Homo sapiens: one gene and its partner. The protein of the gene in region 1 purifies or fractionates together with the protein of each later gene. This does not show direct contact. Each region holds a gene or a part of one and is shown on either strand. Other genes may lie near its edges.

Evidence for each region. Proteins that work in one complex are often made in the same cells at the same time.
Region 2: the proteins of NBEAL1 (region 1) and DHCR24 purify together in Homo sapiens (co-immunoprecipitation; one large-scale study listed by IntAct). This does not show direct contact.

The regions. Positions count from the first base shown.
Region 1 is NC_000002.12:203,132,291-203,137,694, forward strand, and holds part of NBEAL1 (neurobeachin-like protein 1), read left to right. Parts: intron 1-767; coding exon 768-856; intron 857-3,386; coding exon 3,387-3,962; intron 3,963-4,308; coding exon 4,309-4,484; intron 4,485-5,404.
Region 2 is NC_000001.11:54,852,696-54,856,195, reverse strand, and holds part of DHCR24 (delta(24)-sterol reductase precursor), read left to right. Parts: intron 1-1,961; coding exon 1,962-2,159; intron 2,160-2,583; coding exon 2,584-2,762; intron 2,763-3,500. UniProt on the Homo sapiens protein: Catalyzes the reduction of the delta-24 double bond of sterol intermediates during cholesterol biosynthesis.

The DNA of each region.
Region 1 (5,404 bases):
CCCGGGGCGTAGCACAGTTCCTTACTCAGTAAATGTTTATTGACTAAGTGATTAAGTTAATAAGTGAGTCCACGGAACAAGAAAAGGACACTACAGAAAATATGTGCAAAAGATTGTTTTTTCTTAAGGAGCTTAAATTTTTAAAGGCAAATGAAAACTAATTTCAGATATTCTTTGTTGTTTCTTTTGTTTGTTTTGTTCTGGTTTTTTGGTTTTTCTTTTTAGAAACAGAGTCTTGCTGTATTGACCAGGTTGGTGTGCAGTGGCTAGTGACAGGTGTGATCATAGCTCACTGTAGCCTCATACTGGATGCAAGGGATCCTCCTACCTCAGCCTTCCAAGTAGCTGGAACTACAGGCATGTTTCACCATGCCCTGCTTCTAATTTTTTTAAATAATTTTTTTCAGTACTTAATGACAGACAGTAGAATTTATGCCAGATGCTGGGAGTTTGGGGATATAAGATTCTTTGTCTTGATTAGTTTACAATCTTGTTGATAAGACATGTATATAAAAAGATAAATAATAATATAAGAGCCATGCAGTATGGACAGTACGTTCAAGCAATCAAAAGGAACAATTATTTAGGGTTGACTCAGGAGGATGTCAAACATTCTAAACCTATTTTTTCTTTAAAATTTGAACATACCTATAATTCATATTTTAAAATGAAATAATTATTTCAGCATTTTATACAAGTATTATCCACAGTTCTTTCTTTGGTTATCTCTGGTATTTAATTTTAACTTTTTGTTTTTCCTACCATAGATCCTGTTATTAATTTCAAAGATCTACTATCTGTGGTATATATATCTCACAGAGCACATATAAATGTTAGAGTGGCCATCTGCAGAAAGGTCAGTAAACTCTTAAGATATATTTTAATGATAGCAGCATCACCATCATGCTATAAATAACTTTGCATTATTTTGCAGCAGATACAAGTTTTCATTTATTTTATAAATGACGTAATTTTATAAGTAAACAATTTTCTTTTTGAAGTAAATTAACTTCATGTTATCATAAGAAATTAGCATGTGAATGTTTTCTTAGTTCTTCGTGGTCTCCTGCAAATATGTTCTTTCCAGAGTCAAAAATGTATTACCAGAGAATAATTTTCTTATTAAGAACCTTCAATGATTGTGACCATTTCTAATTAATATACCATATTATAGAGTTTCTGAATCTTTTGAAACTTTCTGGAAATAATTTTCTATAATTTGTTTAGGAGTATTCCAACAATGATTTGTCTTTAGTACACAGTTAACCTTTAACTAAGTCAAGAGATAGTTATCCTGTCTTCCCCTTTCAGATCATAACTTTCTCTGTCCTCCACTAGTAACCATTGACCTATTTAATTTGCTTCCTTGCTTTTCTTTTTTTTATTTTACCTCATGATTTTGTCACAGTTCTTGATATATATATATATATATGTGTGTGTGAGAATAAGAGATCTCTATATATAGAGTTTATATATATATACACATATATACACACACATATATAATTTATTTGTTTAACTGACAGAAAAGAAAAATATATATATTTGTTGTATAATATATATGTATAATTTCCTTTTCTCTTTAATGGAAATGCATAGTGTTTCATTGTATGGCTATTTAATAAAGTATTATCTGGTTCCTTATTGATAGACATTTAGGTTGTTTCCTGCTTTTCCATGTTATAAACTGCTGTTATGAATGTCTTTTTATGTTTTCCAATTTGTGGTAATACATCTGTAGGACATACTCCATGAAATAGAATTGCTGTTTCAAAGGGTATTAACGTTTTACATTTTGATGGATTTTTCCACATTGTCCTTCAAAATAACTGTACCAGTTTACATTTATACAAACAGTGTGTGTGACAGTGATTATTTCCCTATGTACTTAGCTCTGAGTATTTGGAGCAGGTCATATAAATTGATCCTTTCCTTTTCACGTATAATTAGAAACAGCTCTCAGTGCAGCTTGGTTTTATCTATTATTTATGTATAAAATAGATATAAAATAAGTCATATTTTATGGAAACTTTAAAGTCAGCATGAAAAGTTTCTTTGCCAAGTAAAGCTTAATCTGGAAGAAAAAAATTGTTATTCTGCACCTATAAAGTAACAGTTGCTCACTGATTGATATTGTATTAATAAAGAAAGAATCTTCACGTCATTGTGACTCCTTGCCTTCTGTATCAACATGTATTAGTACTAGTAATATTGAAGTCCTTACCAACATTGTTCATCTCTTGCTCTGAAAATTGTCAGAGCTAAAACTTCTGTTAAGAGAGATACTCAAAACCCTGGAAGCTAGAGTTCTTTTCATCTACATAGAAGTTTATTGACTTTGTGATAAAATTGTCTTAAAAGATCTTAACTGAATGTCTAAAGCTTTTTAAGAACTTGTTTTTATCTAAAAATTTTAATCAATTGGATAGTAGAGATCATACGTATTCTCATGTCACTGTTTACTATTCTAGCTAAGCAGTGGCATCCATCTTGCTGAAATTCATTTTCTGGAATTAAAGTTTAGTTTTTGTTCTGTTTGTATAATATAGACTTACTAAGCAATGTAGACTTTAGTGTAGACATACTGAACAAAAAAGTTTTTGCAAAAGCAACCATGGCTCATGCCTGTAATCCCAGCACTTTGGGAAGCCGAGGCAGGCAGATCACAGGAGGTCAGGAGTTCGAGACCAGCCTGGCCAACATGGTGAAACCCTGTCTGTACTAAAAATACAAAAATTAGCCAGGAGTGGTGCTGTGTGCCTGTAGTCCCAGCTACTCGGGAGGCTGAGGCAGGAGAGTTGCATGAACCTAGGAGCCGGAGGTTGTAGTGAGTCAAGATCGCACCACTGCACTGGTGCGACAGAGCAAGACCCTGTCTCAAAAAAAAAAAAAAAACTTAACTTTCCCTGAAAAAAACGAGACAGAAAAACATCCTTGGTATACTCAGTTTCTATCAAAATGTCTTATGTGTCCTATTCACTCCCCTAATGCTAGTGCCTAAAACTGTGCCTAGCACATAGTAGGTGTGCAATAATATTTCCTGAACAAATGTAGGGGGCTCATGGAAAGTATTTAGTTGAGAGGATATTACTCTATTATTTAACATATACCATCATCCTATTCATTTTAATTTTTCTTTTTTATCTTCCAGCAGATATTTTAGTGTACTCTTACTCTGTACAATGAGTAATATGGAGATTAGTTGGAAACACAGTGCCAGTCTTCCAAATAGTTTATAATCTAATTAAGAATATAATCTTTTGAAAGTATATTCTTCTATAGTTTCTCATTAAATTACCTTATCATTAAAATAACTGAAAATATTATTTTTGATATAAAGTACTATGTACTTTTTGAAGAATTTTGTATTCTAAATCTTTTTACAGGTTTTGCAAATTTTGCAGTTCCAGCCAGATGCAGCACATCAAATATCACAGCAAGTGGGTTGGCAAGACACCTTAGTTAGGCTTTTTTTAAAAGCAAAATTTGAAAACGGAAATACTCTTCATAAGCACAGTAGAGCTGTTTTAATGAAAGACAATGATAAAAATATGTCAACTGAAGATACCAAGAAGAACTCTGATGAAAAAACAGATGAGGAAAAAATCACCTCTTTTGCCTCAGCTAATGTGTCTTCGGATCAGTGGAGTTTGGAGGATAGACACTCTTTAGACTCAAACACACCATTATTTCCAGAAGATAGCTCTGTGGGAGAATTGTCTTTCAAATCAGAGAATCAAGAGGAATTCTGGCATAGTAACCCTTCACATTTGAGTTTAGACCTCAGTGGAATTGACTCATGTGAAATGAGTGATAGTGGAAGTCAAGTGCCAGACAGTCTGCCTAGCACACCATCCCCAGTAGAGTCTACTAAATCGTTTTCTGTGCACTCTGACAGAGAAAGCAGCATCACAAATGATATGGGCTTTAGTGATGACTTCTCTTTACTTGAAAGCCAAGAGGTAAAATTGCTTATTTTTCCAAATGTTGTTTTTATTTTCATGTCTGATATATACTTCTAATCCTTAGAAATATGTGAGCAGTTGTTAACAATTTCATATTGTATTCATGTTCTAAGTTTCATGATCTAAGGTTTAGAAACCTGGAAGTCACTAGATTGTGAGTTTTTTGAGAGCAAAGCTAATGTCTTACTCATCTTATGTCTCTAGGGCCTAGTAAAGTTCCAGGTTCATTAAGGACTTTAAAAATATGTTAAATGATTACAATGAGTATATGTAATGGTTCTTATGATGTGCTTTGAACAACTACACCCTCTAGTTATTTAAAATTACTTTATATTTTCCATAGAGATGTGAGGAGGAGCTTCTTCAATTACTGACACATATTTTGAATTATGTAATGTGTAAGGGACTAGAAAAGTCTGATGATGATACTTGGATTGAACGAGGACAAGTGTTTTCAGCACTAAGTAAACCAGGAATATCCAGTGAACTACTTCGACCATCAGATGAAATAAAACTAACGTAAGCATTTAGTTAGTGATTTTCCATCCTCCTTTTGGTGACAGCAGGAGTCTAAAATAACGTTAGTTATTGAACATTTATTCAGTATTCTGTGGATATAACAAGGGAGAAAAAGAGAAACTTTGTGCTCAGTTCCTTTTCCTATCTTTTGCCGTATTAGTAGGATCTAAAGAGGAATCCCAAACTCATTCCAGTATGAGGAGGTTTAAGTCTTAAGTAAATTTGGGTCATAAGTGATTACAGATTTTTTGTTTAAACTGTTTTCTTGCAGTATTTGAGGACTTGATACATTGTTTTCTACAGGCTTGTCCAAATTTGAGTGTTTCCGTGCTAAGAGAACGGAGTTGGGTTTTCATGATAATTATTTCTCTGAAGGATTTAGGGTTCCTTGTAGATCAAGTTTGTCCAACCCACAGGTTGCAGGCCACACATGCAGCCCAGGATGGCTTTGAATGTGGCCCAACACAAATTCATAAACTTTCTTAAAAAATTATGAGATTTTTTTGTGATTTTTTTAAGCTCATCAGCTATTGTTAAAACATATCGTTAAAATATCATTAGTGTATTTTATGTGTGGCCCAAGACAGTCCTTCTTCCAGTGTGGCTCAGGTAAGCCAAAAGATTGGACACCCCTGCTGTAGATAATAGGACTCTGTAATGGTAGTACACCGGGGAAGTATTACATCTTTTTTCCACAGGGCAAGACTCTCTGTAAGGCATAATAAGGCTTTCTTCCCTAACCTTGCCAATTTCCAGCTTTAAAGAAACTAATTTAAGTATCTCATGAAGGATGGAATATGAATTATTGTCATAGCTTTTTTATAGTCAAGTAAAACAGGAAACTTTTGACTTTTAATACTATGTATATTAAAGATAAATACTCCAAACATTTCAACGTTTCTCCATTGTTGTTAAATTCC
Region 2 (3,500 bases), on another chromosome or scaffold:
AGGAACACACAACCAGAGGGTGGGCCGAATTTGTGGACCCCTGCAGCACACATTAGACACCCACAACCGAAGGCAGTAGTGCCCTCTGTATTGATACAGGATACAGTGATGAGCCAGTGGTGCTAAGATGCCACCATTTATGAGGTTTTTTTGCTTTCTGTTTTTTCAAAGCTCCTCTGCTTCTCCGTATCAGATGTCCCCCAAAGGGTAGGCAAATCATTCTTACCAATGCTTGCCATTAGGGAGGGGGAGGAGAGTTGAGGGTGGGTGGGGAGCCAGGTCAGGTCATTGCTGGGAGGGAAACAGGGTCAGGAATGCGCAGGGAGGCTTAACTTTTGTACTATGGGGATTTCTGCTGTGGGCATGTGTAGGTCTTCCAAAGGTAACCAAGGAAACAATAAAAGCCAGGCTATTTATTGAGATCCTGTTGCATGCCAGACATTGGCAAAGGCGCAGGATCTAACAGAAGAAAACAGGCAGGTCCCTGACTTCATGGGAGTGGTCCGGCAGCTCCAGAGGAGTGAGGGAAAGGGTCACTCAGCCTTCAGTGCTTACACACATGGCTGCTTTGGGGAGTCACCGTGCCCCCTAGTCTGATGTGGACCCTTTCATGAGCTGCCCCAGCCTCTGTTTGTCCCCACTCTTCCCACACTCATCCAGTGGCCTGTGTCTTCCACACCTGCGGTTGTGGGTGTCTTAAGGACAGAGACCATGTCTCAGTTATCTTGGTTCCCCAGCACCCAGCATAGAACCTGGTTCCTGACCTCGGAGGCCCCTTGGAACTGTTTTTTTTTTTTTTTTGGAGACGGAGTCTCACTCTGTCGCCCACACTGGAGTGCAGTGGCACAATCTCGGCTCACTGCAAGCTCCGCCTCCTGGGTTCACGCCATTCTCCTGCCTCAGCCTCCTGAGTAGCTGGGACTACAGGCGCCCGCCACCATGCCCGGCTAATTTTTTGTATTTTTAGTAGAAACGGGGTTTCACCGTGTTAGCCAGGATAGTCTCGATCTCCTGACCTCATGATCCATCTGCCTCGGCCTCCCAAAGTGCTGGGATTACAGGCATGAGCCACCGTGCCTGGCCAGAACTGTTTAATGAATGGAGGAGCAGCCTTGGCTTCAAGGGCTCCCAGAGCTGTGAGAATCGGGCATCAGTGGACACTGGGGACCCTCAGGAACATGGTAGGACTCAAGCAGGGAGGAGGATTGTGACCCAGGGGCCAAAGTCTTCTCTGTTGGAGGTGGGCAGAGCTGGAGGGAAGAGGGGGCCATCGTCAGGAGGCAGCAGTGCTGAGTGAGGAAGCTCCCGCCTCGTGGCAGTCTGAGGCGTGGAAGAGAACAGCTTCTGCGCAGGAGGGTTTCCAGGGAGACCGAATTGGGGGAGCCAGGCGGGTGGTCAGGCTGTGAGCAAGGGATGCTGCAAACCAGTGGGCTCCTTGTCGAACCTGAGCCAGACTGCACCCACCCCATGAGCGCTGTCTCTGGCTGTGTGCCCCTAGGGAGACTGCTTAAATTCTCTAAGAATCACTATGCTCATTCAACAGCATTCGTTTCTCAAACATTTATGGAATGCCAGCTCTATTCCAGCCAGATCTCAACAGCTAGATCAGGAATGATAGCTAGCTCATTATTGCACTCCAGGCATGGGGTTGAGTGCCTTCCACTTGGTATTAATATCTCATTATCCTCACAAGGCCCATTTTACAGATAAGGAAACTGAGCTCAAAGAAGTTAAGTAACTAGCCCGGGGTCATCACTACTGGCGAATGCCAGAGCTGAGAAGCAAACCTAGATTGGACTGGTAAAGTCCTAGGTCCCATCACACCCCCTCCAAAGAGGGGAATTGGACTCAGGCGTGCTTCTGTCAAGCACAGAATGGGACCTGGCCCCTGGCCCCTTGCACTTGGAGACATTCAACCCTTGTTGGTTTTTTTCTCTCCAACCCTAATCTTTGTTTTCCAGGACATTATCCCCTTTGGCAACAACCCCATCTTCCGCTACCTCTTTGGCTGGATGGTGCCTCCCAAGATCTCCCTCCTGAAGCTGACCCAGGGTGAGACCCTGCGCAAGCTGTACGAGCAGCACCACGTGGTGCAGGACATGCTGGTGCCCATGAAGTGCCTGCAGCAGGCCCTGCACACCTTCCAAAACGACATCCACGTGAGTGGGGCAGGGCAGGGAGGGCGCACCAGGTGCATTCCCTTGGAATCCATGGTCTCCTCCCCTGAACCGTGTGACCGACCTTGGGCACACTGCCCTCTGGGTGTTTTCCCAACTTTAAGATGAGGTCCTTGTCCCTATGTCTGCTGAGGCCTCAACCCACTCAGTGATGGCCCCCCTGGGAGAGGAGTCATAGGGTCTGGCATCGAGCACTCCCATGACCTGCTCCGATTGTGTCCTCCAAGGTGGTGGAGTCAGGGTGTTCTCAGCCAGGGCTGGGGGGCGGGGCAGTGAAGCTGAGAGCACCTGAGGGGGTCTTGAGAATGCTGCAAAGCCTTCATTTGGGTGGGTATGAGCGGGCCAGCCATGAGCCTGTCACCTGTTGGAGAAAAAGCACCAATACCCACCTCCCTGGTCTACCCAGGTCTACCCCATCTGGCTGTGTCCGTTCATCCTGCCCAGCCAGCCAGGCCTAGTGCACCCCAAAGGAAATGAGGCAGAGCTCTACATCGACATTGGAGCATATGGGGAGCCGCGTGTGAAACACTTTGAAGCCAGGTCCTGCATGAGGCAGCTGGAGAAGTTTGTCCGCAGCGTGCATGGGTGAGTGGCCCAGAGTATAGTATGTTGCCTCTAGCTGACAGCCCCAGGGTACTGCTCCAGGGGAATGAGGCCAGCTCTATGGAGAACCAGGAGCCCCAAGCCTATCAACTGGTTCCTTAGGGCCCCTGCAGCTGTGGCAGCCTCTGGGTCAGGAGGTAAGCTGTGAAAGATGGGCAGGGGGTGGGCTTGCAGGACTACTTGCCCTCTTCTCCCTGCACCCCCTCCTCCAGTGAACATGTCACACCCCCCCAGCAGCCCCAGCCAGAAACCTGGGAGTCACCCCACTCCTCCCCACGGAACAGATGATGGGTGTGGGCTTAGCTGGGTCCAGGGGCAACTGCTCCAGATGGAAAGGCCAAAGCTAAGGAGAGAGGGATTCCTGTCTATGAAAACCACGGAGAGGCCCAGGACAGAGGATTGCTCAGAAAACAGCCTGGATAAACTATTGAGTGGAACATGGACAAAGCCAGGAAAAAACAATGCCATATGATTCCTTTCATATAAAATTCCCAAAAACACACATGAATCCATACTGATAGCGCATCAGTAGTTGCCTGGGGATGGCAGAGGGCAACGGATAACTAAGGGGCATGGGGAAAGTTTGGGGCTGATGGTTATAGCCACGATCTGGACTGCAGTGATTGGAGTCCTTGGTTGCATGCATGTGTCAAGCTTATCCAATTGTGTACTTTAAATTATGTCTAGTTTATTGAAAGTCAATAACAGATTAAAGGAAAA